Homo sapiens: one gene and its partners. The protein of the gene in region 6 purifies or fractionates together with the protein of the main gene of each other region. This does not show direct contact. Each region holds a gene or a part of one and is shown on either strand. Other genes may lie near its edges. The genes, in order: CNNM1, TMEM59L, GAS6, CYB5D2, SLC27A6, HFE and POMT1.

Evidence for each region.
Region 1: the proteins of HFE (region 6) and CNNM1 purify together in Homo sapiens (affinity purification with mass spectrometry; one large-scale study listed by BioGRID and IntAct). This does not show direct contact.
Region 2: the proteins of HFE (region 6) and TMEM59L purify together in Homo sapiens (affinity purification with mass spectrometry; one large-scale study listed by BioGRID and IntAct). This does not show direct contact.
Region 3: the proteins of HFE (region 6) and GAS6 purify together in Homo sapiens (affinity purification with mass spectrometry; one large-scale study listed by BioGRID and IntAct). This does not show direct contact.
Region 4: the proteins of HFE (region 6) and CYB5D2 purify together in Homo sapiens (affinity purification with mass spectrometry; one large-scale study listed by BioGRID and IntAct). This does not show direct contact.
Region 5: the proteins of HFE (region 6) and SLC27A6 purify together in Homo sapiens (affinity purification with mass spectrometry; one large-scale study listed by BioGRID and IntAct). This does not show direct contact.
Region 7: the proteins of HFE (region 6) and POMT1 purify together in Homo sapiens (affinity purification with mass spectrometry; one large-scale study listed by BioGRID and IntAct). This does not show direct contact.

What each region holds. Positions count from the first base shown.
Region 1 is NC_000010.11:99,327,064-99,332,264, reverse strand, and holds the start of CNNM1 (metal transporter CNNM1), read right to left. Parts: upstream 2,910-5,201; 5' UTR 2,878-2,909; coding exon 1,305-2,877; intron 1-1,304. UniProt on the Homo sapiens protein: Probable metal transporter.
Region 2 is NC_000019.10:18,615,542-18,619,360, forward strand, and holds part of TMEM59L (transmembrane protein 59-like precursor), read left to right. Parts: intron 1-433; coding exon 434-586; intron 587-1,458; coding exon 1,459-1,561; intron 1,562-2,613; coding exon 2,614-2,731; intron 2,732-2,833; coding exon 2,834-2,951; intron 2,952-3,819. UniProt on the Homo sapiens protein: Modulates the O-glycosylation and complex N-glycosylation steps occurring during the Golgi maturation of APP. Inhibits APP transport to the cell surface and further shedding.
Region 3 is NC_000013.11:113,856,915-113,861,398, forward strand, and holds part of GAS6 (growth arrest-specific protein 6 precursor), read right to left. Parts: intron 1-4,484. UniProt on the Homo sapiens protein: Ligand for tyrosine-protein kinase receptors AXL, TYRO3 and MER whose signaling is implicated in cell growth and survival, cell adhesion and cell migration.
Region 4 is NC_000017.11:4,149,020-4,153,503, forward strand, and holds part of CYB5D2 (neuferricin isoform 1 precursor), read left to right. Parts: intron 1-871; coding exon 872-1,012; intron 1,013-4,484. UniProt on the Homo sapiens protein: Heme-binding protein which promotes neuronal but not astrocyte differentiation.
Region 5 is NC_000005.10:129,023,973-129,028,456, reverse strand, and holds part of SLC27A6 (long-chain fatty acid transport protein 6), read right to left. Parts: intron 1,325-4,484; coding exon 1,126-1,324; intron 113-1,125; coding exon 15-112; intron 1-14. UniProt on the Homo sapiens protein: Mediates the import of long-chain fatty acids (LCFA) into the cell by facilitating their transport at the plasma membrane.
Region 6 is NC_000006.12:26,085,679-26,090,879, reverse strand, and holds the start of HFE (hereditary hemochromatosis protein isoform 1 precursor), read right to left. Parts: upstream 3,452-5,201; 5' UTR 3,440-3,451; coding exon 3,364-3,439; exon of another isoform or gene 2,718-3,363; intron 158-2,717; exon of another isoform or gene 40-157; coding exon 1-39. UniProt on the Homo sapiens protein: Binds to transferrin receptor (TFR) and reduces its affinity for iron-loaded transferrin.
Region 7 is NC_000009.12:131,518,934-131,522,108, reverse strand, and holds part of POMT1 (protein O-mannosyl-transferase 1), read right to left. Parts: coding exon 3,152-3,175; intron 2,721-3,151; coding exon 2,623-2,720; intron 2,030-2,622; coding exon 1,916-2,029; intron 764-1,915; coding exon 637-763; intron 63-636; coding exon 1-62. UniProt on the Homo sapiens protein: Transfers mannosyl residues to the hydroxyl group of serine or threonine residues. Coexpression of both POMT1 and POMT2 is necessary for enzyme activity, expression of either POMT1 or POMT2 alone is insufficient.

The DNA of each region.
Region 1 (5,201 bases), on a different chromosome or scaffold from region 6:
AGGAGTCATTCTGGGAAGTTCTACACTTATTCTAATTATGTCCCTGTTTTCAAATTATGATGTCTGGTGTTGCTTTCAGGGTTTGTGAGATAGTCTTTTGAATGCTCTCAGTGTTGACTCTTGAAAGTAGATTTGATTTTAAAAAACAATCAAGGGTTCTGGGCCAAATCTGGTGAACTAGGGGGGCGGTCAAACTGTGTAATGCCAAGAGGGGTGACTCTAATGTATCCAGGCTGATTTTTCTTGAGTGAATTTGTAGTCACCAGAAGGCACTTTCTGAAGACAAACTCAGACATGAAGTAAACATGTTATAAGCATGACATCAAGCTTGAGTTTGGGGAGGAGAGTTGGAAGATGGTGACTGCGCTGAAGGAAACCCCACTCATTTGGGTATGCAAGTTTTCTAGGATCTCCTCTACCCAGAATATTTCTTCAGGTCCAGATCTATCCTATTTCACAGGACCACAGTTCCCAGACTTACAAGGATCCTACTGCCTTAGTCAACTTTTAACCCCCAACCTGAGTACTTCCCTCCCCCCCGGGCAAAGACAGGGTCTTGCTCTTTTGTACAGTGGTGGGATTACAGCTCATTGCAGCTTTGAACTCCTGGGCTCGAGTAATCCTCCCGCCTCAGCTTCCCAAAGTGCTGGGATTAGAAGCATGAGCCGCCGCGCCCGGCCCTGGACCTGAGTACTTGATATGTGTGCAATCAATACCTGATGGGAAATTAAGTATGGGGAAGAACGTCTAAGGTGTCTGGGTTTAGTCTACATGATTCAAAAGGCAGAAGAGGTAGAAGGATTTGGAGACACAAATTCTGCTCTATATGAGGAAACATTGTCAGCCACTGGAGCTGTCCAGCAATGGAATTAGTTTGCTCTGTAAATAGTGAGCTTTCGGCCCTGGGAGGAGTTTAAAGCAAAGGCTGCTTGTATGGGAACCTGCAGAGGTGTCTCCTGTAATAGGTGGGGAGCTATGCAATGACCTTCAAGGGCTATCTCCCACCTACACAGTATCTGACATTTGGTAGGCCTTGGAAAAACCTGGTAGAATGGAACAAATAAGGAATATGGTGCATCTTGTGAATCAAGTAGAGAGGAAAGAGGCCTGGGGCTCAATCAGGAGCAAGAAGTGAGGCAGAAGTGAGATGAAAATAGCCAGGGAGCCAAGAGGTAGAGTCTTCCTTGGGTTTTTAGTACCATAGGAGAGAAATTGCTTTGGGTACCTAGAGCCTCACGTGGTTAGGAAAGGATAATACCTTTGAAGGGGATAGGAGTTGGGGGAGAAGATAGACTACTGCTCACCCTTCTTAAACTCCTCCAGAACCGTGTCCAGTCGGGTGTCATTGAAAACACAATGCAGGGGCCGGTTGTAGAAGCGGGTGACAGTGAGGAGCGGGGTGCAGTCGTCGGGGTCCACGAAGGCCAAGTCCTTGACAAATAAAATGTCCACAATGTTGTGCCGCTGGTCACCCTCGTACACTGGGATGCGAGTGTAGCCGCTGCGCAGGATCTCGGAGACAGTGGCGAAGTCGAGCACCGCGTCTGAGCGCAGCATGAAGCAGTCTCCCAGGGGGGTCAGCACCTCCTCCACAACTTTGGTGCGCAGCTCCAGGGCACCCTGTATGATGTTGAGCTCCTCCTTCACCAGGTCACTGTAGGGGTCTGCGGCCCGCAACGTCTCCAGCAACTTCTCCCGCGTGTAGAAGGTGCTTATCTCCTGGCGCAGCGCCCAGTCCAGCAGGCGGCCCAGCGGGTAGCACACGGGGAAGGCGGCTGCCATCAGAAGCCGGGTCAGGCACACGCTGTGCGAGGCGATGGCCAGCCCGTGCCGCGAACACACTGAGTAGGGGCAGATTTCGGCGCCCAGGAATACCGCGCCGGTGCACACGAGCGCCGGCAGCCACGGGAAGTGGATCCCCTCTTCGCTGTAGTCTTCCCCGGTGCCCCCGAAGCCCGGCGGCAGCGAGGTGTACAGCCAGCCAGCCAGGGCCGCGTTGGCTCCGGCTTGGCCCAGGAGTAGGGTGCAGAGCAGATGGGTCCCCCTGCCGCGAACGGCCTGCACGCGGCGCGCCTGCTCCTGCTCGGCGGCCGAGCCGCTGTTCCGCAGCACCCGTAACTCCACCGGGTCCAGCGACAGCAGGCTCAGGCGCAGGCCGCTGAACAGGGCCGACAAGGCTAGCAGCAGGAGCGCCCCGAGCGCCCGCAGCCACGCAGGGGGCAGCAGGTCCCCGCCTGGGCCGTACAACCGCGGGCGAACGCGCAGCAGGAAGCCGCCGGCGGCGCCGTGGTGGTGCCACGCGCGCCCATCCCAGGCGCAGAGTGAAAAGAGCTTCCCGCCACCGCCCGCGCCGCCCCGCTCCGCTTCGCCCTTGCGCAGCTCCCGCACTCGCACCTGGACCAGGGCCGAGCCTGCCACGCCCCCGGGACGCAAGGGCCCCAGGACTTCCACGTCCGATGCCCAGTCGCTCTGCTCCCTGCAGCGCTGCGGTCCCGGGGGGCGAGTGGGGACCGCGCTGGGGGCCACGCCGCCACCGCCCGGGGGCTCCTCGATGAACACGAGCCGCGGAGCCCAGTCGCCGGTGCCATTCTCCCCCGAGTTGAGGGTCGGTGAGGGCACCGGTGCGGCGGTGGCCGGCGGTCCTGGCTGGAAATAGACACGCAGGAGGAAGCTGGTGCCTTCGGCGGCGCGCAGGGTGCCCCCCTCCAGGGACACGCGGCCTCCAGCAGTGTCCTCGGGCCGCAGGCCCAGCAGCCAGGCGGCGGCGGCCGGGGGCCGAGGAGACAGGGAAAAGAAGAGCAGGAGCACAGCGCCTCGGCTGCAGCAGTCCCGGAGCCTGACACCCACCGCTGCTGCCGCCGCCGCGGCCGCCGCCATCCTGCACCCAGCGCAGCTGCACGTGATACTGCAGGAAGCCGAGCGAGAGCTGGAGGGAGGAGGAGCCGGAGCTGGGAACCCAGCCGCAGGCAGGTCACCACGTGTACGCCCACTGCGCGCGTGGGCTGGTGGCGGTGGGCATTCAGACTCCACCTGGGCAGGAGGTCCCCGCTGGAGGCTGGAGGTGGCCAGGCATCACCGCACTGTGCGTAGCGGGTACACACTTCGGTATATCTGAGATGCAGCCTGAAAAGTCTGGGTTTGCAGCATGGCCTCCTACTCCAAAAGTAAGGTGCTCCTCTGCGAACTCCTACCCGGCAGTAATTCCCTGCCGGCTCCACTGCTTCCCCATTGGCCCGGGAAATTTCCCAGCTTTTCGCTTCTCCTGCCACTTGCATTCCCCCTTCTGGTCAAAAGAATATTCTGGAGTCAAGTCTTGAATATGTGAAAACTTTTAGCCTCAACTCCAGCCGACCTTTCATTATTGTAAACATTTCTGGATTATTTAAGTTCAATTCTTAGTTAAGATCCGAATGTCCATCAATAAGAAACTGTTGAAATAAGTGAAACCACTGTGCAATGGAATACTATGCGGCAATAAAAAATAATGCGGTGGATCTGTTGTATATGTGATACGGAAAAAAATCTCCAAAGTAATTGTAGAAACAAAGTAAGGTGCAGAACAGCAAGTATAATATGCTACCATTTGTGTTAAAAGTATTTATGTATAAATTTGTACACACACACACACTTATATGAGATTTATTTATTTATTTATTTATTTTGAGATGGAGTCTTGCTCTGTCGCCCAGGGTGGAGTGCAGTGGCACAATTTTGGCTCACTGCAACCTCCACCTCCCGGGTTCAAGCGATTCTCCTACCTCAGCCTCCTGAGTAGCTGGGATTACAGGCGTGCGCCACCGCGCCCAGCTAATTTTTATATTTTTAGTAGAGATGGGGTCTCACCATGTTGGCCAAGCTGGTCTCGAATCCCTGACTTCAAATGATCCATCTGCCTCGGCCTCCCAGGGTGCTGGGATTACAGGCGTGAGCCACCGCGACCCGCCGTTTACATCTTTTAATTAATTTATTTATTTTGAGACGGAGTTTCGCTCTTGTCACCCAGGCTGACGTGCAATGGCGCGATCTCGGCTGACTGCAACCTCCGCTTTCCAGGTTCAAGCGATTCTCCTACCTCAGCCTCCTGAGTAGCTGGGATTACAGGCGCCCGCCATCACGCCCGGCTAATTTTTTTTTTTTTTTTTTTTGGTAGAGACGGGGTTTCACCACGTTGGCCAGGCTGGTCTCGAACTCCTGACCTCAGGTGATCCGCCTGCCTCGGCCTCGCAAAGTGCTGGGATTACAGGCATGAGCCACCGTGCCTGGCGGGTTACATCTTAATTATAGTACAATATCAAAAGCAGGAAGTTGATATTGGTGTAATGTGTGTATATAGTTCTCTATCATTTTATCACATGTATGGATGTATGTGACCATCACTGCACTCAAAATACAGATCTATTATCACCAAGATCTGGGAGGGAGACTTTCTTATTAAATTCCTTATATTGTTTGAATTTACTCGACTATATTATTTTTATGCATTTATTTTTAAACTTTATATAGTAAAATTCACTTTTTGGTGTACTGTTCTATGAATGTTGACAAATGCATATACATGTAAACATCACAATAAAAAGTAATTCCATCACCACCACCCCCCAAATTCTCTTACCGTCCTATTGTATGTAGTCAACCCCTCCCTTCGTCTTATCCTCTGGGAACTACTGATCTGTTCTCCCCTATAGTTTTCTTTTCCGGATTATCATATAAATGGAGAATACAGTCTGTAGCCTTTTGGGTTCTCCCTTCCTTTACTAAGTTAGCATAATGCATTTACGATTCATCTATGTTGTTGTGATTTTCAGTAGTTCATCCTTTTGTATGGCTGAGTAGCATTCCATTATATGGATGTGTCACTGTTTGTTTATCCATTCAATAAAGGATATTTAAGTTATTTCCAGTTTTTAGCAATTATTAATAAAGTGGCTATGAACATTTGTGTGATGGTTTTTGTGAGAACATAAATTTTTATTTCTCTTGGGTAAATTTATCATAAGTCTGTATTACATTTTAAAATATAGTAATCCTAACTACTTGGTAGGCTGAAGTGGGAGGATCTCTTGAGGCCAGGAGTTAGAGACCAGCCGGAACAATGTAGGGAGGCCCTGTCTCTAAAAAATTAAAAATTAAAAAAAATTAGCCAGGCATGGCGACACATGCCTGTAGTTTCATCTACTTGGGAGGCTGCAGCAAGAGGATCA
Region 2 (3,819 bases), on a different chromosome or scaffold from region 6:
TGGCCCAAATCACTTAGCCACATCCAATCCAAGTGAATTCTCCTAGCTCCTCTCCTGTTAGTTTATTTATTCATTTATTTATTTGAGATGGAGTCTCACTCTTTCACCCAGGCTAGAGTTCAGTGGTGTGATCTTGGCTCACTGCAACCTCTGCCTCCTGGGTTCAAGCAAATCTCCTGCCTCAGCCTCTGGAGTAGCTGAGATTCCAGGCGTGCGCCATCATGCCTGGCTAATTTTTGTATTTTTAGTAGAGACAGGGTTTCACGATGTTGTCCAGGCTGGTCTCAAACTTCTGGCCTCAAGTGATCGGCCTGCCTCAGCCTTCCAAAGTGTTGGGATTACAGGCGTGAGCCACCACATCCTGCCCCCTCCCATTCATTGGTTAATGCCCTATTTCGGTGCCATCTTTGTGTCTTGGACCTTTTTTCACCAGAGAAAGGTCCTGGAGGCTCCAAGTGGGGCCCTCTCCCTCTTGGACTTGTTTTCCACCCTCTGCAATGACCTTGTCAACTCAGCCCAGGGATTTGTCTCCTCCACCTGGACATACTACTTGCAGACTGACAATGGGAAAGTGGTGGTGTTTCAGGTGAGACCTCTGACAGGGGCCACGCCAGAGTGGCAGATGGGTGGGCAGGGTAAGAAGATGGGATGCATTGGCTCTTAGCTCATGAGATGCAAAGTCCACAGTGGGCGAGCTTCAGGCACAGCTGGATCCAGGGGCTCAGTGTCTCACTCCATGCCTTGACTCTGCTTTCTTTTGTGGTGGCTTCATTCCCAGGCATTTACTTCTTCTTGGCAGTAAGGTGGATGCCAGAGGCTCTAGGTTACAAACGCTGTGGTTTTTTTTTGTTGTTGTTGTTGTTGTTTTGAGATGGACTCCCATTCTTGTTGCCCAAGATGGAGTGCAATGGCATGATCTTAGCTCACTGCAACCTCCACCTCCCAGGTTCAAGTGATTCTCCTGCTTCAGCCTCCTGAGTAGCTGGGATTACAGGCGGCCACCACCACACCCACCTAATTTTTGTATTTTTAGTGGAGACGGGGTTTCGCCATGTTGGCCAGGCTGGTCTCGAACTCCTGACCTCAGGTGTTTCACCTGCCTCGGCCTCCCAAAGTGCTGGGATTACAGGCATGAGCCACTGCCCCGGCTCCCTCTGGGGTTTTAACTGAGCTGGGATTTACTCTGATTGGCCCTGGCTGGATCATATGACCATCTCTCAGGCAATTCACTGGCTTGGTCTGGATCATGTTCCTACTTCTGGAGCTAAAGGATGGGGTTAAGGCAAATGGAGGAGCCCATGAAAGCAGAAAACAACATCCCTGACATCAAGCCCACCCCTGATACCCAGGGGAACTGGGTATCAGCTGGGCGTGGGACATGGCAGTCACAGAGGGCCTGCCTGGGCCCAGGGGTGCTGTTCTCACAAGCCTCTCTGTGCTGTCTTGTTCCTGGCCCAGACTCAGCCCATAGTGGAGAGCCTCGGCTTCCAGGGGGGCCGTCTGCAGCGCGTGGAGGTGACCTGGCGAGGCTCCCACCCTGAAGCCCTGGAGGTGCACGTGGGTAAGGTGCAACCTAGACCAGTGTTCCTTCCATGGGTGGCCCCACTGCCACAAGGAGTCGGCCTGGCAAACAGACCTTCTAGGATCGGGATCTCCATCTCTCAAGTCCTGGGTTCCATGGCTCATCCCCCAGGTCTCCATGGTCTATTTCCCAGGGTTCCATGGTCCACCTCCCAGGGTTCCATGGTCCACTTCTCAGGGTTCCGTGGTCTACTTCCCAGGGTTCCGTGGTCCATCTCCCCGGGTTCCATGGTCTATTTACCAGGGATCCGTGGTCCACCTCTCAGGGTTCCGTGGCCCACCTCCCGGGTTCCGTGGCCACCTCCCAGGGTTCCGTGTTCCGCCTCCCAGCGTTCTGTGGTCCACCTCCCAGGGATCCATGGTTCACTTTCCAGGGTTCTGTGGCCCATCTCCCTGGGTTCTGTGGCCCATCTCCCAGGGTTCCATGGTTCATCTCTCAGAGTTCCATGGGTTCATCTCCTAGGGTCATCTCCTAGGGTCCATCTCCAAGGGTTCTTTGGTCCATCTCTCAGGGTTCCATGGTTCATCTCTTAGGATTCTGCAGTTCATCTCCCAGGGTTCTGTGGCCCATCCCCCAGGGTTCTGCAGTCCATCTCCCAGGGTTCCATGGTCCATTTCCCAGGGTTCCATGTTCCATCTCCCAGGGTTCCATGTTCCATCTCCCAGGGTTCCATGGGTTCATCTCCTAAGGGTCATCTCCTAGGATCCATCTCCCAGGGTTCCATGGGTTCATCTTCTAGGGTCATCTCCTAGGGTCCATCTCCTAGAGTTCTTTGGTCTATCTCTCAGGGTTCCATGGTTCATCTCCTAGGATTCTGCAGTTCACCCCCAGGGTTGCATGGTTCATCTCCTAGGATCCATCTCCCAGGGTTCCATGGTCCCTGTCTCAGCATTCTGTGGTCCATCTCCCAGGGCTCTGATCTCCATTCCAGGACTCTATGCCCCAGGTCCTGACCTCCTCCCTCCTGGTCATGGTTATTGTGGCCTCTTAGCAAAGACCTGGTGGTCGCTGAGTGGCAGCTGATCTCTCAGACCCTGTAGGCCCCCTGGACAAGGTGAGGAAGGCCAAGATCCGAGTCAAGACCAGCAGCAAGGCCAAGGTGGAGTCTGAAGAGCCACAGGACAATGACTTCCTCAGTTGCATGTCCCGGTGGGTGGCAGGACCTTGGGGGTGGGAGGGGGGTGGGACTGGAGGTACGGGTCTCCCTGGTCCCGGCCTGGGCAGCTGAGTGGTGCCTGCCGGGCGGGGCAGGCGCTCGGGTCTGCCTCGCTGGATCCTGGCCTGCTGCCTCTTCCTCTCCGTGCTGGTGATGCTGTGGCTGAGCTGCTCCACCCTGGTGACCGCGCCTGGCCAGCACCTCAAGTTCCAGGTGGGTGGGATCTGTGAATGGCGCTGGGCCGAGGGAGGGGGTGAAGGCAGAGAGAGCTGTTTGCTGGTCCTGGATTTGGCCACCTGCTCCCATGGAGGCCAGGACCTCAGACATTTTTTTCTTTTTTCATGTATATACATATATATACATATACGTGTGTGTGTGTGTGTGTGTGTGTGTGTATATATATATATATAATATATATATATATATTTTTTTTGAGATGGAGTCTTGCTCTGTCACCTGGGCTGGAGTGCAATGGCACCATCTCGGCTCACTGCAACCTCCACCTCCTGGGTTCAAGCAATTCTCCTGCCTCAGCCTCCGAAGTAGCTGGGACTATGGGCGCGGGCCACCACACCCAGCTAATTTTTGTATTTTTAGTAGAGACGGTGTTTCACCATGTTGGCCAGGCTGGTCTTGAACTCCTGACCTCAGGTGATCCATCCGCCTCTGCCTCCCAAAGTGCTGGGATTACAGGCGTGACCCACCGCGCCCGGCCTATATATATATTTTTGAGACAGGATCTCACTCTTTCACCCAGGATGGAGTGCAGTGGCATGATCACAGCTCACTGCAGCCTCGGCCTCCCTGGCTCAAGCAATCCTCCTGCCTCAGCCTCCTGAGTAGCTGGGACCACAGTCACGTGCCACCATGCCCCGCTAATTTTTGTATTTTTTGTAGAGATGGGGACTATGTTGCCCAGGCTGGTCTTGAACTCCTGGGCTCAAGTGATCCACCTGCCTTGCCCTCCCAGAATACCGGGATTACAGGCATGAGCCACCTCACCCAGCCAGGACCTCACACTTGCTGCATGACTTGGGCCAGTTTCTTCACTGCCCTTTGAATTGGTGGGAAGAAAATCCAC
Region 3 (4,484 bases), on a different chromosome or scaffold from region 6:
CAGTTGGTCCTGGATGGGAGCCAGTCCCAGCCTGGCCGAACGTTTGGCCTTTTTATGCTGAGAATCCAGCCACTGCAGTGACCGGCCCAGGCTCTCTGAGGGCTGGCTGGGTCAAGCTGTGTGTTTTCCATGGAGCCCCAAGTTCCAAGGGGAGGTAGTCACAAAACAGGGTCTAGCAGGTTTGTGGACAGATGTGGAGAAAATGTATTTTCTTATCATAGGCACTAACACTGGAAGGAAAAAAATTTCACCTATAATTTGAAAACGGAGCCCCAGAAAATTAGTAGAACATTAACAAGGCCCAATGCACTTTACTATTTCTTTTGAATATTATACTTTTAATCAACACCCGTCAGTCAGAGCAGAGAGTGCCTCTGTCAGAGTGAAAGGCAAAACTGATACTGTTCTTAACTTATTCCACTTCCAGCTCCCCTTTAAAATTTATTTTAAAACTTTTAAAATGAACCTTTCACTTGGCCAGGGTCAAAATTTACAAGGCGTACACACCAGGTTTGCAGTGAAATCACTGGAATATAAAAACCATGGAAGAGTCCAGAGCATTTCCAACATCAAATACGAAACCCTTAAACAAGCAGCTTTGCATTGGAGAAACAGCTCTCAGTTTTAACCTTAGAAAACAGGGGAAAATGAAGCATGAGGAAACCTGGATGCCTGTCAATCGCTCTGGGGTAAAGCCATAACCTGGGAAGTGCTCAGCATGCCCCAGCTAGCAAGCTTAACGCCCCTTTACTCAGAATCTCAAGAAAGAAGCCATAAGCACTTGCTTCCTAAAAGAGTGTTTTGTTCCTAAATAACAAAGGGAGACGTTCAGCGTTTCTCAAAACGTCTTTAATTAGAGTTTTCCACAGATGTGAAGCTCTCCGGCTCGGGTGAGGGTGTCGTGTGCAGGGCCTGGCACTCGGCTGCCTCTGAGAAAGCCCCGGAGGAGCCTGGCACCAAGTGCCTGCAGACGCCCGGGTGAAAACAAGCATCTGCACAGGTGCGGGCACAGGAGAGGGCTGCGGAGCCAGCACGGAAGACGGCCCTCAGAGGAGGCCGGGCCGGGGTCCACCTGCAGGCCTCAGGATGGGCCCAGGAGGAAAGGCCTTGGCCACAGGGCTCCGGCCCCTCAGGCAGGGGGCTCTGGGAGTGGAGAGACCCTGGGGGTCTGAGGAAGCTGGGGCCACAGAGCCCCGTGACCTTGTGTCACTTTTTAGTGATCCTGCTGCAGCTGTCAGTGGTCTTCTGACCCCAAAGTTGTAGAAAGAGAAAAGTGTGTGAGAGGGTGCACATGTGTCTGTGTGTGTCTGCATGCATGTGGCTGGGCATCCATGTGTGCCTGTGTGTGTATATGTGTCTATTTATGTGACTGTGTGTACATGTGTGCATATTATGCATGTGTGTACATGTCTGTCAGTGTATGACTGTGTACGTATGTCTATGTGAATGTGTGCATGTGTGTGCATGTCTGTCAGTGTGTGTGACTGTGTGTTTACATATGTCTATGTGAATGTGTGCATGTGTACATGTCTGCTAGTATGTGCCTTTGTGTGTGCATGTCTGTGTGCCTATGTATGCATGTCTGTGTGTGACTATGTACATCTATGTGAATGTGTGCATGTCTGTGTACGTCTGCTAGTATGTGCCTTTGTGTGTGCATGTCTGTGTGTGACTGTGTACGTATGTGTACATGTCTGTGTGTGCCTATGTATGCATGTCTGTGTGTTTGTGACTGTATGTGTACATGTCTGTGTGTGCCTATGTATGCATGTCTGTGTGTGTGACTGTGTATGTACATCTATGTGAATGTGTGCATGTATGTGTACATGTCTGTTAGTATGTGTGTGCGTGTCATTATGCATGTGTGTACATGTCTGTGACTGTATGTATGTCTATGTGAATGTGTGCATGTATGTGTACATGTCTGTTAGTATGTGTGTCATTATGCATGTGTGTACATGACTATGTAAGTCTATGTGAATGTGTGCATGTATGTGTACATGTCTGTTAGTATGTGTGTGCGTGTCATGCATGTGTGTACATGTCTGTGTGACTGTATGTCTATATGAATGTGTGCATGTATGTATACATGTCTGTTAGTATGTGTGCCTTGTATGTGCATGTCTGGACAGTGTGTGACTGTGTGTACGTATGTCTATGTGAATGTGTGCATGTATGTGTGTGCATGTCTGTCAGTGTGTGGCTGTGTGCTTACATATGTCTATGTGAATGTGTGCATGTATGTGTACATGTCTGCTAGTATGTGCCTTTGTGTGTGCATGTCTGTGTGTGTGACTGTGTACGTATGTGTACATGTCTGTGTGTGCCTATGTATGCATGTCTGTGTGACTGTGTAGGTACATCTATGTGAATGTGTGCATGTATGTGTACATGTCTGTTAGTATGTGTGTGCATGTCATTATGCATGTGTACATGTCTGTGTGACTGTATGTCTATGTGAATGTGTGCATGTATGTATACATGTCTGTTAGTATGTGTGTGCCTTGTATGTGCATGTCTGGACAGTGTGTGACTGTGTGTACGTATGTCTATGTGAATGTGTGCATGTATGTGTACATGTCTGTTAGTATGTGTGTGTGCCTGTTTATGTGTGTGCATGTCTGTCAGTGTGTGTGTGTACGTATATCTATGTGAATGTGTGCATACGTATGTACATGTCTGTTAGTATGTGTGTGCCTGTGTGTGTGCATGTATATCTGTGTCTATGGGAACATATGTACATGTGTGCATGTGTCTAGGTAGGGGTGTGTGTGTCCCTGCACACCTGTATCCATGAGTCAGCACCTATCTGTGCTGGTGTCCATGTGTGAATGTGTGTGCATGTGTCTGTGTGTGGGAGTGTGCTGCAGCCTCTGTCAAGGCAGGGCAGGGGAGGTCTCAGCCTGGCCATCACCTTCCCCACCAGGCGCCCCCACATTGTACAGCCCTCCCCTCCAACAGGGACCTCCCTTTAGGCCATCCCAACATCTGGGCCTGTGTCCCAGCCAAGTGGCTGTTCCCAAGTGGGGACTCAGAGGGGTTTTCATTTCCATAAAGGGTACCCCTTCCCCAGCTGTTCCCAAAGAATCCACAAGGTCAGGGAAAAGGTGCTTGGAGGGCACATGCAGTTCAGGATGAGCCAGCAAGTTTGAAAACGGATGCACCAACATCCCATGCGGAGAATTCCTCACCACCAGCAGTGGGGAGAAGAGAGAGACTGGGACAGAGAGAGAAACACAGAGGGAGACAAAGAAAGAGATGGGGGAAGGGAAACCTGGCCTCGGAGCACAGGCCTGGCCACATGTCGTGCAGGTGCGGGTACAGGTGCAGGTTGCTAATCCAGGCCAACCCTCAGGGAAGGCCACCAGCCCTCGGTGAATATTGTGCTTTGTATCTCAGATAAAGCCAGGTGATGGGATCAGGAACCACAGCCTGGATGATTTTCCGGCAGGCAGGCCGGGGATCAAAGTGCACAAACAGGCTCCCAGGCAGGCACCGGAGGACCTGGGCAGTAGGGCTGGGCTGGGATAAGTCTCTAGTCTCGGATCATTTCTGGAATCAAGGGGTGATTATGGAGACCTCAGCAGGCCCTGGAACCTGATGGCCTTCGAGGATTTAGTAAAAAGTCACTGGGCCTGGGAAGCTTTAGCAGAGACACTGTGGGGAGTTACCCAGTCTTCTCTGAATTAGAAACTCGGGCAAGGAACCCAGCAGGGAGAGGCAAGGCCAGGGAGGGAGAACAACAATATAAAAAGGAAAACAAGATAAGGAGAAGGTCTGGGCGGTGGAGAGCAAGGAGGCATGTGGGGGTGGCCCAGCCTGGAGGAATGTCGGGGGAGGGGCACGGCTCCAGCAGAGAGGGCTGGGGAGGTGGGAGGAGTGTCCCTTCCAGCAGAACAGGGCTTGAAACCACAGGTGTGTGGGGAGGGCCAGAGCCTGGGAGGGGTGCTGGGCTTAGTATCCGCCTGCTGGAAGGTGGGGGTCTGCAGAGCAGGCACTTCCCTCACAACCAGGAAGCAGCCCCAGCTTGGGGCAGTGGGACACGCTTCAGGCAGGTGAGCAGGTGGCCAGGTGGGCACAGAGGTTAGCACACAAGTGAGCCTGGAGCCTGGGAGGGGTGCCGGGCTTAGTATCTGCCTGCTGGAAGGGCTGCACAGCGGGTGCTTCCGGGAAGAAGGCGCAACCAGGAAGATGCCCCAGCAAGGGGCAGTGGGACACACTTCGGGCAGGTTAGCAGTTTAGCAGGTGGACATGAAGGTGAGCACACTGGAGAGCTGGCTCCAGCTGTCCCTTCCCTCCCTCGTAGGAGCCTGCCCAGGGGAAACAGCCAGGGCTGGGTAGGTGCGTGTTAACTAACGGCGGCCAGGCACTTCCCACATCCTAAAATGGCAGGGGGCTGGGACCACCTTCCCTACAACCACCCGTGGAGGACCACACATCAGGATCCTGGGCCTGGGGAGGCCAGGGACCCAAGGATGCTCTGA
Region 4 (4,484 bases), on a different chromosome or scaffold from region 6:
ATAGCTCAAACCCCTGGGCTCAAGCAGTCCTCCTTATTCAGCTTCTTGAGGAGCTGGGATTATGAGCATTAGCCACCACGCCCAGCCAGTGTGAACATTTTGATCTTGTGATATCTGTAAGACGTCTAAGTGTTGTTGGATATACAGGTGTGAGCCTTGGGAGACATCTGAGCTAAAGATACAGATGTGGCTATCTTTGCCTGTAGGTGGGCTTTGAAACCACAGGTGTGGATGAGATTGTCAAGTGTGAGGGTGTGGACAGTAATTGACCCCTAAGGCTGGTAGACAGTGAGGAGCTGGAGAAGTAGGAGGAAAATCAGGCCAAGGGAAGTGGTCAGCTGTGTTAAAGTTTGCCGAAGGTAAAAGAAAGAATATGACCAATGCCAAAGAGATGTGTGTCCAAGGTCTAGGAGCATCTTTCACAGAGGAGGTGGTGGGGACCCCATTTCCCTGGGGATAAGGAGTAGGGCTTGTCAAGAGACGTTTCTCAGAAAGCAGTTTCTGGCCAGGCGTGGTGGCTCACACCTATAATCCCAGCACTTTGGGAGGCCAAGGTGGGCGGATCACCTGAGGTCAGGACAAGCCTGGCCACCATGGTGAAACCCCATCTCTACTAAAAAAATACAAAAATTAGCCAGGCGTGGTGGCGGGCGCCTGTAATCCCCGCTACTCTGGAGGCTGAAGCAGGAGAATGGCTTGAAAGCGGAAGGCAGAGGTTGCAGTGAGCTGAAATCATGCCACTGCACTCCAGCCTGGGCAACAGAGTGCGACTCCGTCTCAAAAAAAAAAGAAAAAGAAAGAAAACAGATTCTTGAGTGGGGATGGTGTCAGTGGTTTACACCTGGGTCTGATGGAAACATCTCTGTTCCAGGCCGAGACGCATCCAGAGCTTTCGTGACCGGGGACTGTTCTGAAGCAGGCCTCGTGGATGACGTATCCGACCTGTCAGCCGCTGAGATGCTGACACTTCACAATTGGCTTTCATTCTATGAGAAGAATTATGTGTGTGTTGGTAAGTCGTCCATAGGTCATACATTTCATTTGGTTGTCTGCAGTGTTTTTAGGGGGCTGAGATTTTTTAGGGATTGGGTTCAAGCTTAAAATCTGAAAAACAGCCATGGATTTGTTTTACTTTAAATTCTGGTCGTTAGAATAGGGATGAGCCGCCCAGAAGGAGATGGATGGGCACCTGCTTCCCCCACTCTTAGTCTTGGGAGAGGATTACTAAGCTGCTTGCTTTGGCCTCAGTTTCGCCATAGCCAGTGGTTGCTTGCACCATCCTTGAACAACCAGCTCCAGAAGGGCAGCTTCCCTGTCTCACTGTGTTCGATGCATCTGGCTTCAGCACACAGCCAGAAGGGCTTGAAGCCTGAATTTGTGTTTCGACAAATCCCCTTTTATTTGGTCCTCTAGGAGGAGACAAACTTCGTGAGTGAGCTGTCTCCCAGGTGGTAGTTATGCTAATCAAACCACTGTGTAGGTTACTGCACTTGCTACTTACTGATGCTACATAAGGGACTTGCTTCTCAAATGAGACAACACCAAACTGTGTCCTAAAGCAGTGTTAAAGACTCTAAACACTAGGCCCGGCGCAGTGGCTCACGACTGTAATACCAGCACTTTGGGAGGCTGAGGCGGTTGGATCACTTGAGGTCAGGAGTTCAAGACCAGCCTGGCCAACATGGTGAAACCCTGTCTCTACTAAAAAATACAAAAATTACCTGGGCGTGGTGGCACGCACCTGTACTCCCAGCTACTCAGGAGGCTGAGGCAGGAGAATCGCTTCAGCCCGGGAGATGGAGGTTGCAGTGACCTGAGATTGCGCTACTGCACTCCAGCCTCAACGAAAGACACTAAACACTAGATTGCTTCACAAGTACTGACAACTGGGATGGCCGTAGCCCTTTCTTCTATCTATCTGCAGCCCCCACGTCTCACTGGAGTCCTACTTGGACATGACTGACTTCCTGAGGAACACCAGTATCACTTCACCATCGAAACAGGTCTAACTTGGAAGAATTCTTTCCTTAATGCCTCTGAATTTCTGCTTCTGTCATCACTGCTTGAGTTACCTTTTCTGAGAACCTTGGCATTTTTATTAACACCTCAGCTCCCTCCACATCCAATCAATCATGGCTTTTTCATAATATCTAAAGTTTGTGTCCATCCATTGTGGGCCTCTGCAGCACGCCTTTCTTCATTTTCTCTCGTATGCCCAAGATCAGTCTTGAGACCATAACCCTGTCTACCATCGAAGGCACTGACCTCTACTCACCTGCGCTTCAGAGGGCTGGGTTCTTCCCTTTCCCAATGAAGTTGCCAAACCAAGGTTGAAACATTACTGGGTTAATAAAGAAAAGAAAACCCAATAGAAAAGAATAAGAGCCAGGAGTGGTCTCTCACACCTGTAATCCTAACACTTTGGGAGGCCGAGGTGGGCGGATCACCACCTGAGGTCAGGAGTTCAAGACCAGCCTGGCCAACATGGTGAAACCCTGTCTCTATTAAAATACAAAAATTAGCCGGGCATGATGGCAGGTGCCTGTAATCCCAGCTACTCAGGAGGCTGAGACGGGAGAATTGCTTAAACCTGGAAGACGGAGGTTGCAGTGAGCCAAGATCGCACCACTACACTCCAGCCTGGGTGGCTGAGTGAGACTCTGTCTCAAAAAAAAAGAAAAAAAAGAAAAAGAATAAGAATGGAGTCCAGACCGGTGGCTCATGCCTGTAATCCCAGCACTTTGGGAGGCTGAGGTGGTCGGATCAGTTGAGGTCAGGAGTTCAAGACCAGCCTGACCAACATGGCAAAACCATGTCTCTACTATAAATACAAAAAATTAGCTGGGTGTGGTGGGACACACCTGTAATCCCAGCTACTCAGGAGGCTGAAGCATGAGAATCACTTGAACCTGGAAGGCAGAGGTTGCGATAAGCCGAGATCACATCACTGCATTCCAGCCTGGGCAACGGAGTGAGACCCTGTCTCAAAAAAAAAAAAAAAAGAACAGAGTCCTGTAAATGGGCAAAGAATGCCAGGCCAAATACTTCATACTAAGATTTGGGAGCACACTGGAAGTGTTCGGATGCGTTTGGTGTGACAAGTGAGCTGGTCTTGTTTGAATGATGTATAATGTGTTGAGGATGGGGTGGGGCATGTGGCGGGAAATGCCTCAGAAGGATTTTAGTTGATGTCAGGATCTTATTGAATACCTACTACTCATAAGTTACGGGTTCCATCCTCAGGGGGACCAGGGATGAATTGAGTCCAGTTCCTGCCCCTGTTAGCTCATTCTGTAGGATAGGGGCCATGTTAGGCTCTTTCAGGTTACCAGAAACCCTCAGGATACATCAGTGGATGAAGGTTTATTGTAAGGGTACATACTGAAGTGAGGACAGCCAGGAAGCCATCTTGGCAGCCAACATGGCCAGGCCTCAAGGGAAAACAAGATGGCCTTGGTTATGCTGTGGATACAGGATTGGCTTGGAGATGCAGCCACTGGTGATCACCATTCTCATGACACAGATTCTAGAACTCTTCCTCTGTTGCCTCTGCTACTACTGTCCTCTCTTTGGGTCTCATGTCAGAAACTCACCAAAGACAGGCTTGTCACCATATAACACAGACACCCCAACCCCCGTAGTGGGAAATTCTGTGCCAGGCCAACTCATAGACTGCAGGCCTGTGACTCGGGCCCTGATTCCTTTCTTTATTCATCTAATAAGTATTTAAAATGAATGCTCTATGCTAAGCTGTTTTATTTATTTATATATTTTTTCAGATGGAGTCTTGCTTTGTCACCCAGGCTGGAGTGCAGTGGCACGACTGCAGCTCACTGCAACCTCCAACTTCTAGGTTCAAGCAGTTCTCCTGCCTCAGCCTCCTGGGTAGCTGGGATTACAGGCATGCACCACCACGCCCAGCAAATTTTTGTATTTTTAGTAGAGACAGGGTTTCACCATGTTGGCCTGGCTGGTCTCGAACCCCTGACCTCAAGTGATCTGCCCGCCTCAGCCTCCCAAAGTGCTGGGATTACAGGTGTGAGCCGCTGCGCCTGGCGCTAAGCTGTTCTGAGTACTGCGCCTCACTAGTAGAGAGAGCCATCATAGACAAGTAAACAGATTGAACAACTCCACATAGGACCATGCATCAAACTGTGATGTAATACGTTTGGGAGCTTTGGCTCCTTTAGAGCACATGCTCAGGAGTGGCTTCTTGGAGAAAATGACCGTTAAGCTGAGACCGGCAGGTGAGTGGGAGGCAGCCACACCGAGACCTGAGGAGAGTGTGCTGGGTCAGGGAAGAGCGGTGCGAAGGTGGGGAGTGGGGAAGCACAGCCAAGACACAGAAAGGAAGCCAGTGTGCTGGAGCCCCCCGTGAACGAGGGGGGACGTAGCTTGTAAGAGGCTGAAGAAGCAAATCAGTTAAATGGTTACAGGGCCTTAGAGGCCTTGATAAGAAATTTGCATTTTTGTCTGCTTTAAGA
Region 5 (4,484 bases), on a different chromosome or scaffold from region 6:
AAATATATTTATACCTGATATAGCCACACCATAGACGTTTGCTTCCTGTATGAAATCCAACATTCCAATAACATCAGCAACCTCAGTGGTTGCGACATTTTCTCCTTTCCATCTAAATGAAAAAAATCAAATTCCAGTTAGTGCACCTGTATTTGAAAAACTAGGTACCCAGTTTTAGTTTTAATGTCTTGCATTTGGCACTGTGCAAGCACCTACTGACCAACATAATTGTAGTTTTCAAGATGAAAGGCATTTCTAAGAAAGCACTTTGTTGGTATTTCAACAAAATCAGCATTGGTCTTTTAGTCAAAATTACTTTATATCTCATTGTATAAATTACCTTCTATGTTTTATAATATACATAAAAATAAAATAACTACAAGGATTATCATTACAAAAATATTATTTTGTAAAATAACAATGAAGTGTGAAACATTCCTTTTCTCTGGTGTTAAGAATTGAAAGCAAAGCTCTAGTTGTCTTTTAGGACACTGACCCACTTCAGTTTCTAGGTGTTAACCCCTTTGACTCTGACCCACTTAAATTTCTAGGTGTTAACCCCCTTTGACTCCTTTAATGCTTTTGAATGAATATTTTGTTTTAATTGAAATAATTTTATATAAAGTGAGCTTATAACATGGTACAAGAAGGCAAGGATGTAGGAAGTTACTTATTCATTCAAGTCATTGGACTAGTAAAGCAAAATAATTTCATAGGCCTAAAATAATCTTAGGGAATTAAAAAAGGAAATGTGAGAAAGGGGATTTTTGCTGCTTCAAAATTTTTATCATTAGGCCAAGAATTAGACTACAGTTGACCAAACTGGCTTTCTGTTTTAACCCTACCATTTATATTTTACATCTGTCTGCCAGTTTTATTTCCTTAAAAAGGAGCTCACTGATTTGTTCTAAACTGATTCACTAAAATAATCATAAAACTTTACATCAAAATTTAACTTGTGGTTCAGTCTAGAAACAGATGGCCAATAAATGTTTTAATGAGGAGACATGGAGATAAAAGGGCTCTGTCTGCCCTGAAAGCTAAAGCATATGTGGTCTCTGATGTTTCTATAGAAGCATGGTTCACAATTACAGAACAAGCTATGGATCCCATAACATTTCATACCTGAAAGTGTCTCCAGTACGGTCCCAAAAATAAAGGAAATTGTCCTGATCCTGGACTATTAAGTCTCCAGTATTAAGGTAAACATCTCCCTTCTTAAAAACATCACAAAGCAATTTGTCTTTTGTGTGCTTATAAGGCCCAGCATAGCCAAAGAAGGGATTTTTTGCATTCACTCGAGAAATGAGAAGTCCAGGTTCTCCTGCAAGAAAGAACGACATTTTTGCAGCCATCTGATTAAAACTATTGTTACACACACCATGAATGTATCTATATTATATCTGGCCAGCACAACCAATGCTGCTTATCTCAGCTTCCTCTGAACCTATTTCTGTATTTGACATCATTTACCCTTGGTGCCTATATCCAGCACATCCTTTCATAGATTACCACAAATACAAATTACTTTGGAAAAACTAATAAAAAGGGAATTGAATGGAAAGAAAAGCCTCATTAGATTTCTTATACTTCCCAGGTGGATAGACCAACGGCTATTTTTGTTTTGGATTATGTAGATGTTACCACAGATAATATTGACATTTGTTATATAAATAACAAATGTAGTGATAGTGTTAATAAAATAATGATAGCATTTTTTATTGGGCATTTACCATGAGCCCTTTGCAAATGCCACTTTGCTTATTCTGCATAGAAATCCTTTGATATAATCCCTATTTCACCAGCAAGGAACTAGGACCGAGAGGGGTAAAATAGTTGCCACGCTCAGAGAAATAAATGGACCTATAACTCAAATTCAAGTTTTTATGACTTTGTGTGGCAAGGTTTCTGTATAATACTATCTCTGATCCAACACACATGTTATTATAATAAAACAGTTTATTCCTCTGGGATGCTATTCTGGAAATTTTTGATGGGAAAGAGATGAGACATTGAAAAGGTTTCCTATTCTATGATACTTATTAGTTTCAGTTATGTTTAGACACATTATCTGAAATAATTTTCCAATCAAACTTATTCAAATTAATTAAGGTTTTTCTCAGCAATCTGCAAGGTAAAAGCTACTTCTAAGAGAAGACGAGAGGACAAAGGACAGCAGCAATCACTGCTCTGGAAGTCTTCAAGGCTATTGTCCACTTGCTATGCCTGCTGTAAAGTGATGCAGTGTTCATGCGGCTAGATGAAGTTGGAGTCCAGCAAACTATGATACAGAGTGATTTCTGTCTTTTTAATGCTCTTAAAAAAAATAACTCTCACTCTGTGACCCAGGCTGGAGTGAAGTGGCATGATCATGGTCCACCACAGCCTTGACTTCCCAGACTCAACCGATCCTCCCACCTCAACTTCCCAAGTAGCTGGGCTGCAGATGCATGCCACTAGGCCCAGCTAATTTTGTAATTTTTTTGTAGACACGAGGTCTCACCAGGTTGCCCAGCTGATCTAGAACTCTTGGGCTTAAGCCATCCTCCCACCTCAGCCTCCAAAAGTGTTGGGATTACTGGCGTGAGCCACCGCACCCAGCCAACAGTCTTTACTCGACTCCCATTTCTCCCACTCCTGGGCATTCTGGCTTTCAAGGGCACATAGGTCACTGGCCAAAGCAAATCTTCTCTGCCCCAGCAGTCTGATAGCATCATCATCATCATCATCATCATATCATCACCATCATATCATCATATCACCAACACCATCATATCATCATCATCACCATCATTATCATCACAATTATACCTATTGAGCACTTTTTGCATAATAGTCATGATTCTGAGTGTTTTACATATGTAATCCATTTAATTCTCATCACAAACCTATAAGAAAGGCCCAGATAATATCTTCATTTTAAGGTGAAAAAACTGAGGCGTAAAAAAAGGAATTTGCCCAATGTCATACAGCTGTCAAATGCAGGAGTCGGAGTATATATATATATATATCCAGGTACATCTGACTCCAAAGCCTTACCTCTGTGATATATTCTGTCAGTCTACATTCCCTGTATTTCAGAATTTTTCAAGACTCTTATATCTCCCTTAAAACTTACGTTTTTTTTTCTTTTTTAGGACACAGGTGACAGTTTCTTTTCTGACAAACTAATTGTTGCAAATGTTTAAATAGGTCACAGTGTATTCATATCTTTCCTGTCTGGGCATAATTTACATTGTGAAGACACAATGCCTTAATGGAAAAAATATTGAGTAGCTCATAATGAGAATTCCAAAATAGAAAAACAGATATTTGGGGTCAACCAGCTTTTTAAGAAACCCTGAGGTTACATAAGCACAGTTCTGGGATTCAAGTTTTAACATCAGATATTACTATAATTGTAAGAAATAGAACAGTAGAAAAGTGCACTTAAGTTCTTTGCACTCTGCTCAGAAATTATTTTCCCATGGGCAGTGTCTACAGATTAGAATTGGAGAAACATATTTGATAAATGCCAGTAGGCTTGAAATTCAGAGATTTGGGAGATTTGTTTTTTAATAGACAAAGTTTGCATTTTTTATTTTAGTCTTTCAGCTACCAGAAAATAAAAACAGGTTTGTCACCTTATCTTCACATTTGAAGAAAAGATTTAGGAAGCCACTTCTGAAATGCAGTTTCAACATATTTTAAGGCAATACAAATTAATTTTGGCTTGATTTATCCATACTGGATCTCTAAACAATTCTAAGTGCACATCTCTATATTTTATTTTCTAATTTGATTATATGCAGCAGCAAGTTAATTGAAGTACTTGCTTTCATGAAAATTTCTAACCTAAAATTGTAAGAAAGTCTACCTTGGTAGAGAAGGGAGGGGAGTGAGAGGGAGAAGCTGAGGAGAGGAAAGTAACAAGCCACATACCAGGTCCCCCAGGAATATATATACATCCCATTTAATCGTCCACAATAACCTCACTTAATAAACATTGTCACTTCTACTTTACATATGAAGAAAATAAGACTTAGGTTGAGTAATCTGTCTAAAGTTGCACCATTTCTAAGTGTCAGAGACCACGTTTAAATCCAAGTTGGCCTGACTTTACATTATATCTAGAGTGATAAATTAATTCACTAATTTCTATATTATAGTTTGGCAATATAGGACATTAGAAATTTGCCACTGTTCATACTACAAGTGGTGGATTAAGAATAGTATGAGCCAAATAGTTACCACTTTTGTATTTTAATAATTTACCATCTGAGTGATCCCTCTAGGGCTCTTAACATTTAATAGTAAAATTGTTCCACCTGCATTAAAATTCCAAAGTTAAATTATACAGTGGACCTAGTCATCCTCTCCTTTTTAAATTCACTAATAATCACAGTGGGCCCTCCATATCCATGGTTTCACATCTGTGGATTCAACCAACCTTGGATAGAAAATATTTGGTAAAAAAGATAAAATAATAATAAAACAATAAAAAA
Region 6 (5,201 bases):
CTGAGGCACCCATGAAGAGGTAGTGCAGAGAGTGTGAACCTGGAGACAGAGCAACAGGCCTTAACCATGTGTAGTAGGAGGGGAGCAGGATGTTGAGGCTCCACACACCTGCATCAACTCATACCATCAGCTGTGTCTGGTCCTCATTTTGTGAAGGGTGAGTTGCAGTCCTGTCTTTCTTCCATATGACAGTCCTGGGTGCTCTTTCCTTGTGTGCTTTTCTCTGCCACACGTGGCTGCCACCCCCTCACTGCCCCCAGATCCTATTCCAATACTCATGATTAGACAGACTCCACTAAAGCTGGTGGATTCTAGAAAATGTTAAGGTGTGTCTAGCCATGGTAGTTGAACTCAGGAGTTGGTGCTCAGGGCAAATTAGACCCAAATCCTGAGGAATAATTCCTTCAGTTTTTTTTTTTTTTTTTTTTTTTTTTTTTGAGACAGAGTCTCACTCTATCACCCAGGCTGGAGTGCAGTGGCACAATCTCAGCTCACTGCAACCTGCACCTCCTGGGTTCAAGGGATTCTCCTACCTAAGCCTCCTGAAAACCTGGGACTATAGGCGTGCGCCACCACACCAGGCTAATTTTTGTATTTTTAGTAGACATGGGGTTTCACCATGTTGGCCAAGCTTGTCTCAAACTCCTGACCTCAAATGATCTACCTGCCTCAGCCACCAAAGTGCTGGGATTACAGAAGTGAGCCACCGTGCCCAGCCTTGGTCCTGAATTCTTACACTGAACTGCCTATGTGGCCTCACCACTTGGAAGCCTGACTGGAATCTCAAACTTAACATGTCCAAATGCAGATCCTTGATTTACCCCAAACTGCTCTTTCCTCTGCCTTCACCATCTCAGAAATGGCATTGCCAATTACCCCACTGCTCAGGCCAATAAAATTAAAATAAAGAACAAAGTCAACTTTAACTCTTCTCTTTTTCAGGGGGTCAGGGGAGACAGGGTCTTGCTCTGTCACCTAGGCTGAAGTACAGTGGCACAGTCATGGCTCACTGCAGCCTCAACTTCCTGGGCTCAAGCAATACCCTCCACCTCAGCCTCCCGAGTAGCTAGGATCACAGGTGCATGCCACCACACCCAGCTAATTTTTGTATTTTTTGTAGAGAAGGGGTTTTGCTGTGTTGCCCAGGCTGGTCTTGAACTCCTGAGCTCAGGAATCTGCTCTCCTTGGCCTCCTCCTTGGCATGAGCTACTACACCCAGCCAATTCTTCTCTTTCTCTCACACAACATAGAATCCTTCAGCAACTTCCTTCAGAATATATTCAGGAGACAATGGTTTGTCACTCCCTTTTCTGTTCCCACCCAGCCCACTCCACTACCTCTTGCCTGGACTGTGTAACAGCTTCCTGGCTGGGCTCCCTGCTTTTACTGTTGCTCCCTTCATTCTGCTTTCCACATAGCAGCCAGAGCAATCTTTTAAAAGCCTGTGACAGATCACTGTTACTCCTTGGCTAGAATTCACACCACAGCCTACAGGCGCCTGCACAACCTTGTTTGTGGCTCCTCTTCTGAGCCCATTACCTACTTCTTGGCCTCTACTCCCCAGCACTACTTGTTTATTTTTTTCAACCCGAGCTTCTTAACCAGGAGTTTGTCTACTAGGTGACATGTGGCAAAGTTTAGAGACATTTTTGGTTGTCAAGACTGGGGGAGTGCTCCTAGCACCTAGTGAGTAGGGAGGACAGGATACTGCTAGACATCCTACATGCAGATGGTAGTCCCCCTTCCCACCCCCACGCCGCCCCCCCCCCCCACACACACACACATGAGTAGTGCTGAGAAAACCCGCTTTTTAATCCAACTTGCCAGGCCCACTCAGTTTGCCTGGGAAATACTGCTCCCAGTCAATATCATTCTTATTTCCTTCATGTCTCTGCTCAAGTGTCAGCCCCAGAGTGACTTGCCCTGACTTCTCTGCTTCTCACAACACCCATGATTTCCTGATGTTGTATATCTTTCTGCTCATTTGCTTATTGTCATCTCTCCCACTAGAATGCAAAATATCAAAGGGTAAAGACTTGTTTCCCTGCTCTCTCCCTTGGGGCTTGAACAGTGCAACACATGGCTGGGACTCATTTACACTTGTAAACAATGAATATTTCTGCTCAACATGAAATTTTATTATTCAACCTCTAATGCAGTGTGATGTTTAAGAATCATAGCTATGAAGTGGAGACATGAGCTCTGCCACCAAAGCCCAGTGTACCATTGAATAAATTTGCCAGGAAGCAGGCCGTGCCATGCCTCATTCTTGTCATGTGTAAAATGTGGATACACGTAGTACCAAAACTCAAAGTGCTGTGCTGAGGCCGGCGTGTGACCCACAGAACACTGTGCTACACTACAGGGCAAAATCACTGTCAACTAAGATTAGAAGCAGCTGTAGTACTTGAAATAACATCAGAAAACCAGATTATTTATGTTCTTTGTAACCTGAAAAGAGTTATATAATCTGAATTCCAGTTAACTTCTAGTAAAATAAACGTATTATTAGCTCCTACCTCCCTATGCCTAGTGAAAATCAAATAAGATCAGATATGAATGTAACTTAGAAGTGAGTGCATTGCTTACATGTTCATTATCAGTACTTTGTAGAGAGGCCTCTTAATTACACAGCACATTGCAAATCAATAAAGCCTAGCCGAAAAGAGAATTGTTCAGTTCAAACGTTCAAAACTAACATATACTTAATTTTCCAGGCAAAAGAACAATTGCCAAGAGTGGGGAAAGGCCCGAGGTAGGCCTCTCTCAGGAGCCTCCCACCCTAGAGACCTCCACCCCAGGTCTCACCAAAAGTGGGTGGAATGGTGAAGAATTCAGATCCCCAACGCCACTCTTTCGCGCCCCCACCGCCCAACGCATTCGTTCTGAGGTGGAAACCCCGTGCGGATCCTGCTGTGGGTTTGCTCAGCCTTCTCGGCAAGCACTCAGGGAAGAACTTCCTGTTTGGAGATGACTGGGGAAAAAACTGCACAGCTGACATTGGAAATAAACCCGAGTTCCAGGTTCAAGGAGCCCCAGGCTTAGCTCAGCTCAAGTGAGGAACTACGAGATTTATTTAAAAGCATTCTAGTTGGGGGAAGGGAGTGGGCGGTTCCAAAAGTCACTCCGCAGAGCCGGGACAGCCGGGGGAGGGGGCAGGTCCTGGGGCGAGGGACCCCTATCTGCAGTTCAGTGGTAGGCACTCCCTCACGGGGTCTGGACGCAGAAAGTAGGGAGAGGGGCTTGCGGATAGGGTTGAGCAGGTCCTCCAAAGTTAGCAAACTCCCAAGCGCAAAGAAAAAGCTAGTTTCGATTTTTCCACCCCCGCCGCGCCCCTAGTTCGCCCGCAGCCCTCGGACTCACGCAGCAAGCGCCCCTGCAGGACCGCGGTCTGCAAAAGCATCAGGAGGAGAAGCGCCGGCCTGGCTCGCGGGCCCATTTCCCCAGCTCTGGCCGCACGTCCCCGTTAAATCTCCGCTTCTTTTGGGGGGCGGGGAAACGGGGATGGCTCCAGAAGTCACCCTACAGCTATTGCCTAGGCTCAGGAGATGCCCAGTAAAACTTCCTGGTGAAAAGCAACAGGTCTTTCAGAACTTTAGTTCTCTCTCTCCTACAGCAGAAGGTACCTGCTTGTGAAACACTAGGTGATCCAGTGTCCCCCTTGGTTTTTAAATCCTGAAGGGGTGTTGTTGATTGGGGAAAGTAGCTTCGCAATGTTCTGATCTGAACTTTAGATATTTAAATATTTATGATTTTCAAAATTCAATCATACATTTAAAAATTTTATCTCAACCTTAGACCAACTTATGTCTTATTTGACTTAGAAATATAAAGCTTTTTCATTTTGTTTTTTGATTCAAATTAATTAAGTCATAACATTAACCAATTAGATCCTACTGAAACACCTTCCACAGCCTTCATAATTGAATTATCTGACAAGTGTTTCACAAACTTTACAGTATTGGGATTATCTGGAGAATGATTAAACATATTGAGGCCTGCTCCTAACCCCAGACACACTGATTTAATGGGTAATTGTTAGGTAGTTAGACATTAGCAGTTGGGAGGGGATGACAGAAGAGAGCGGAAAGGCTGTCACTAAGACAGCCACTGGCCCACCTAAATTCAGGCCCAAGACTACCCTAATGCCACCCTAAGGGATGGAGTTTATGATAAAGTCTGTGGCCAAAATATCCTGGAGAAAGAGAAAGGAGGGTACAGGTGGAAATTCCCTAAGGTGGCACATGCCCAACAACACAAAAGCCTGTCTTCAAGTTCACCCCAAGTTCATCATGCCATCATTATAATAGAATTTACATACAGTTTTGCCCCCCCATCCCTGGGAGGCTTTTCTTAACAAATTATAGGTAAGACCATGCACAGTTTAATTTTAGATTGTATAGCTATACACTTCAATCAAATAACATCATCCTGTCACTCAGATACAGCCCAAACCTCAACTCCTCCCCACAAACCCCATAAAAGCACCTTGAGCTCTGTAAAGAAGTGCTGAGTTCACTTCGCAGAAATAAGCCCGCTGTCCCTCAGAGTGTATTATTGTGCTTCAATAAACTTTGCTTTAAGCTTGCATTTTGGTGTTAGTTTGTAGTTCTTTGCTCACTATCACAAGAACTGAGATTGCTGGTTCAGAGCTCCGGCTATAATAATCTCCTCGGTTAAAGGATCCATCCCAATGCATAATTCCCAGTAACAGTATGGGATGCCACCTGGGCAATGGGATTTTAAAAGCTTTCCTTCTCCCTCAACGAAGTTTGGGAATTATTGCCTTAGACATTTCAAACAATATTAATAAATTTAATACACCTGATTTGCTCCAAACCTTTACATATCTAGCAAATTCAACAGGCATTATTTTTGTAAGCATGTATGCAAATTTTGGCAATTCAAGAAAATCAAACAGGATATCAGGGCCTCGACTGTAGGCAAACAGATACAATAACATTGGAAACATGTAGAATATTGATGATGGGCACATTGGGGCTGATAGTACTATTCCTTTTTTTCAATTTTTGGTAAGATATAATTAGCATACCATATAATTCATCTATGTAAAATGCAAAAATTGGCCCGGCTCAGTGGCTCACGCTTGTAATCCCAGCACTTTGGGCGGCCGAGGAAGGCAGATCACCTGAGATCAGGGGTTCGAGACCAGCCTGGCCAACATGGTGAAACCCCGTCTT
Region 7 (3,175 bases), on a different chromosome or scaffold from region 6:
GTAGTTCACTGCCCAGCCACCGGCACACAGCGCCCCAGCCAGCACCCAGCGCAGCCAGGCATCTATAGGAAAGGGCTCGAGCTACACCGACTCTGCTGCTCCCACAGGCCGGGTCTTCTCTCTCTTTTGCTTTTTTAGAGAGAGGGTTCTTACTATGTTGCCCAGGCTGGTTTTGAACTCCTGGCCTCAGGTGACTCCCTCACTTTGGCCTCCCAAAGTGCTGGGATTACAGGTGTAAGCCACCGCGCCCGGCCTGGCTGCCTGTGTTACCCAGCCATTTCCAGCGCATACGGGCAACATGGGACCAAGAGGGCAATTCCTGCCCAATACGCTGCACTCGACTGGAGACACCTCTAACGCAACATGGGAACTTAACATTTTGTCTCTTGGGAGACAAACATAATTTAAGATTCCACAATACAGAAACAAAGAGGCCGCGTTAAGGGGTAGGTTCCTATGAAGTCGGTTTGTCACTTGAGGCGGTGAATGCTCAGCGCACACCTGTAATCCTAGCACTATGGGAGGCCGAGGCAGGAGGATCGCTTAAGCCCAGGAGTTCAAGAACACCCTGGACAACACAGCAAGACCCCATGTCTATATTAAAAAGAAAGAAAGCCATGTGGGAGAGGTACTAACCCTGAGGGAGGTCATGGACATTTCTTCGCCGTCGGAGCAGGTACCACAAGGACAGCAGGGCGTAGATGGCCAGAGCGAGGCTGCCCGAAACCCAGATCACTATGTTTCCAAGTAGGTGGATCTGAGCCTAAGGGAACATGGGAGATGCTGTTAGCCACCTGCCCTCTGCTCAGGGAGGGAAGAGAAGAGAACACAGGAAAGGAATTCAGATGCACGCACTACTTTAGCAGAGTGAAAAAACGCCAGGCACAGCCTAGCATCCACTAGGCCTTACTACTACTGTGGACAGGTCTGCTCCTACTCAGACCTTTCATTAAAAGCACTGATGCCAGCCGGGTGTGGTGGCACATGCCTGTAATCCCAGCACTTTGGGAAGCTGAGGTGGGCAGATCACCTGAAGTCAGGAGTTTGAGACCAGCCTGCCCAACGTGGCGAAACCCCGTCTCTATTAAAAAGTACAAAAATTAGCTGGGCATTGCGGTGGGCACCTGTAATACCAGCTACTTGGAGGCTGAGGCAGGAGAACTGCTTGAACCTGGGAGGTGGAGGTTGCAGTGAGCCAAGATCACGCCACTGTACTCCAGCCTGGATGACAGAGCAAGACTCCGTCTCTCTCTTTCTCTCTCACATACACACACACACACAGCACTGATGCTCTCAATTTTGTAATTGGAAACTGAAAATTGGGAGCAGATGACTCCACTTTGTAACAGCAGCGCTGTCCACGGAGGAGAATGCAAAGTGCGCTCAGAGCTCGGGGTGGGGCGGCCTCTGGGCCTGAGCCTCTGCCTTCAGTGCACATGCTGAGCCGACCTACCCGCCTCTGAGGGAGGAGGAAAAAGGTGGGCATTTCCAGCGTCTGCCCATTCAGTGAATATTTATGGGGCGCTGACTGTGCGCCCGGCCTACCAATGCTTTCACTCTGCCGGGTGGAGAGACGGCACGCACATCAGCAAAGCACCGGTAAGCTCCACCACCAGGTGCCACACGGAAAATTGAATGGGAATATCTTAAAACCACTTTCGCCAGGAAAAGGGGAACAATGTGTCTCCACAAAAGCAATCAAGCCGGGTTTCCTTCAACAGGCACACATGCCACACCCCTACTCCTGGCTCCAGGTTGCCAAAGCGTTTAGAGAAAACCAAGTCACAGGCCTTTGTCAGGAAAAGCTTGGGAGAAACCCAGCACTTTCTAGGGTGCAGCGGCTGCTCTTAATGCAAGGAATTCTCAAGAAACAGGATGAATCTATGACTGTCAGCTGTCAGCATCGCTCGCTTACGCTGGTCCTGGGGTGCAGCCAGTAGGCAATATTGGTGTCCAGGGTGACCCACTCCAGTGGGCTGGAGCTGTACTTGTGTTCCGAGTCATCACTTCTCAGCGCCAGCATCCTCCACTGGAACAAAGCAGAGGCCTCTGAGATTGAGGATGGGGGATGCCTCCCGCTGTGCGTGGATTTGGTCAAAGGAGTACACTGCTGCCCCTTGCACGTGGACTGGCCCAGCTCAAGTTCATTCGGATCATGCATCGGAGGCAGCATGATGAGAACCTGGATTCCAGCCCTGAATGTGGCCTTGGGAGGGTCGCCCCACCCTATGTGCTCCAGTTACCTCCTCTGTAGACGAAGTGATTGGGCTGAATGCTCTCTAAGGTCACGTTCAGATTTGTGACCGTGAGTTTCTGATTGTGACTTCTCTTGGGCTCTGTTGAGTGTGGCCCATTTCGCTGCCTGGGGGCCTTAAGACACCCTGGCGATGTTGCAGAACCTCCTGGGTCCCTATTATTCCTGACCACAGGGCCACAAGGTGTGGGCCAGGGGTGTCACACACAGTCCCTTACACTGGAGAGAGGAGACACTCATTCTGTTGTGAGCCTGTAGCTCCAGCGTCAAAGCCTGACTCTGGTTTGAGTCCTGTGCAGCCCCCAGGCCTCCCTGCTGAGGAGTCAATGCTCAGCGAGCTAGGCCAGCTTCCCCTGGCCGCTCCTCACCTGCAGCTCCGAGAATCTCGCCATGAAGCTGAGGTTCCTGCTGACGTCCACCTGCGCAGGTGAGTGCAGCTCCCGTTCCCGCTCCCTCTGCTCCTGGCCTGGCAGAACAGACAAGGGCATAACAGATAGAAGTAGCACAAGGTCAAGAGCTCAGAGCAGAAGCTGTCAGTGCAGCAAAAAGCTGGCTTCCTGCCTTTCTAACAAAGACCCCTTATCGAACCGCATCATTCCACTTAGCTTTCCCCACCACACCCAAGACTGCCCGGTCAAATGAGGTGATTTCGACCCTGAGAAAGCTCCACTTGCACGGGGATAAACTGGTTGCCTTCCAGCGACACCTCGGAAGAAGCGTCTTGAGTTATTACTGCAGCAGCTGAGTGCAGGGTGCAGGGAGGGAGATGACCTGCCACCGAGCATGGAGAATGTGCTCAGTTCCCTTCCCACCAAAATGAGAACTCTGGGGTGTTATCAAATATTGAGCAGCTGAAAGTACATTCCAGGAGCGGCGGAAGCCACGCCGCGGACTCACTCGCGCCGTATCGGTGCTCCTCCA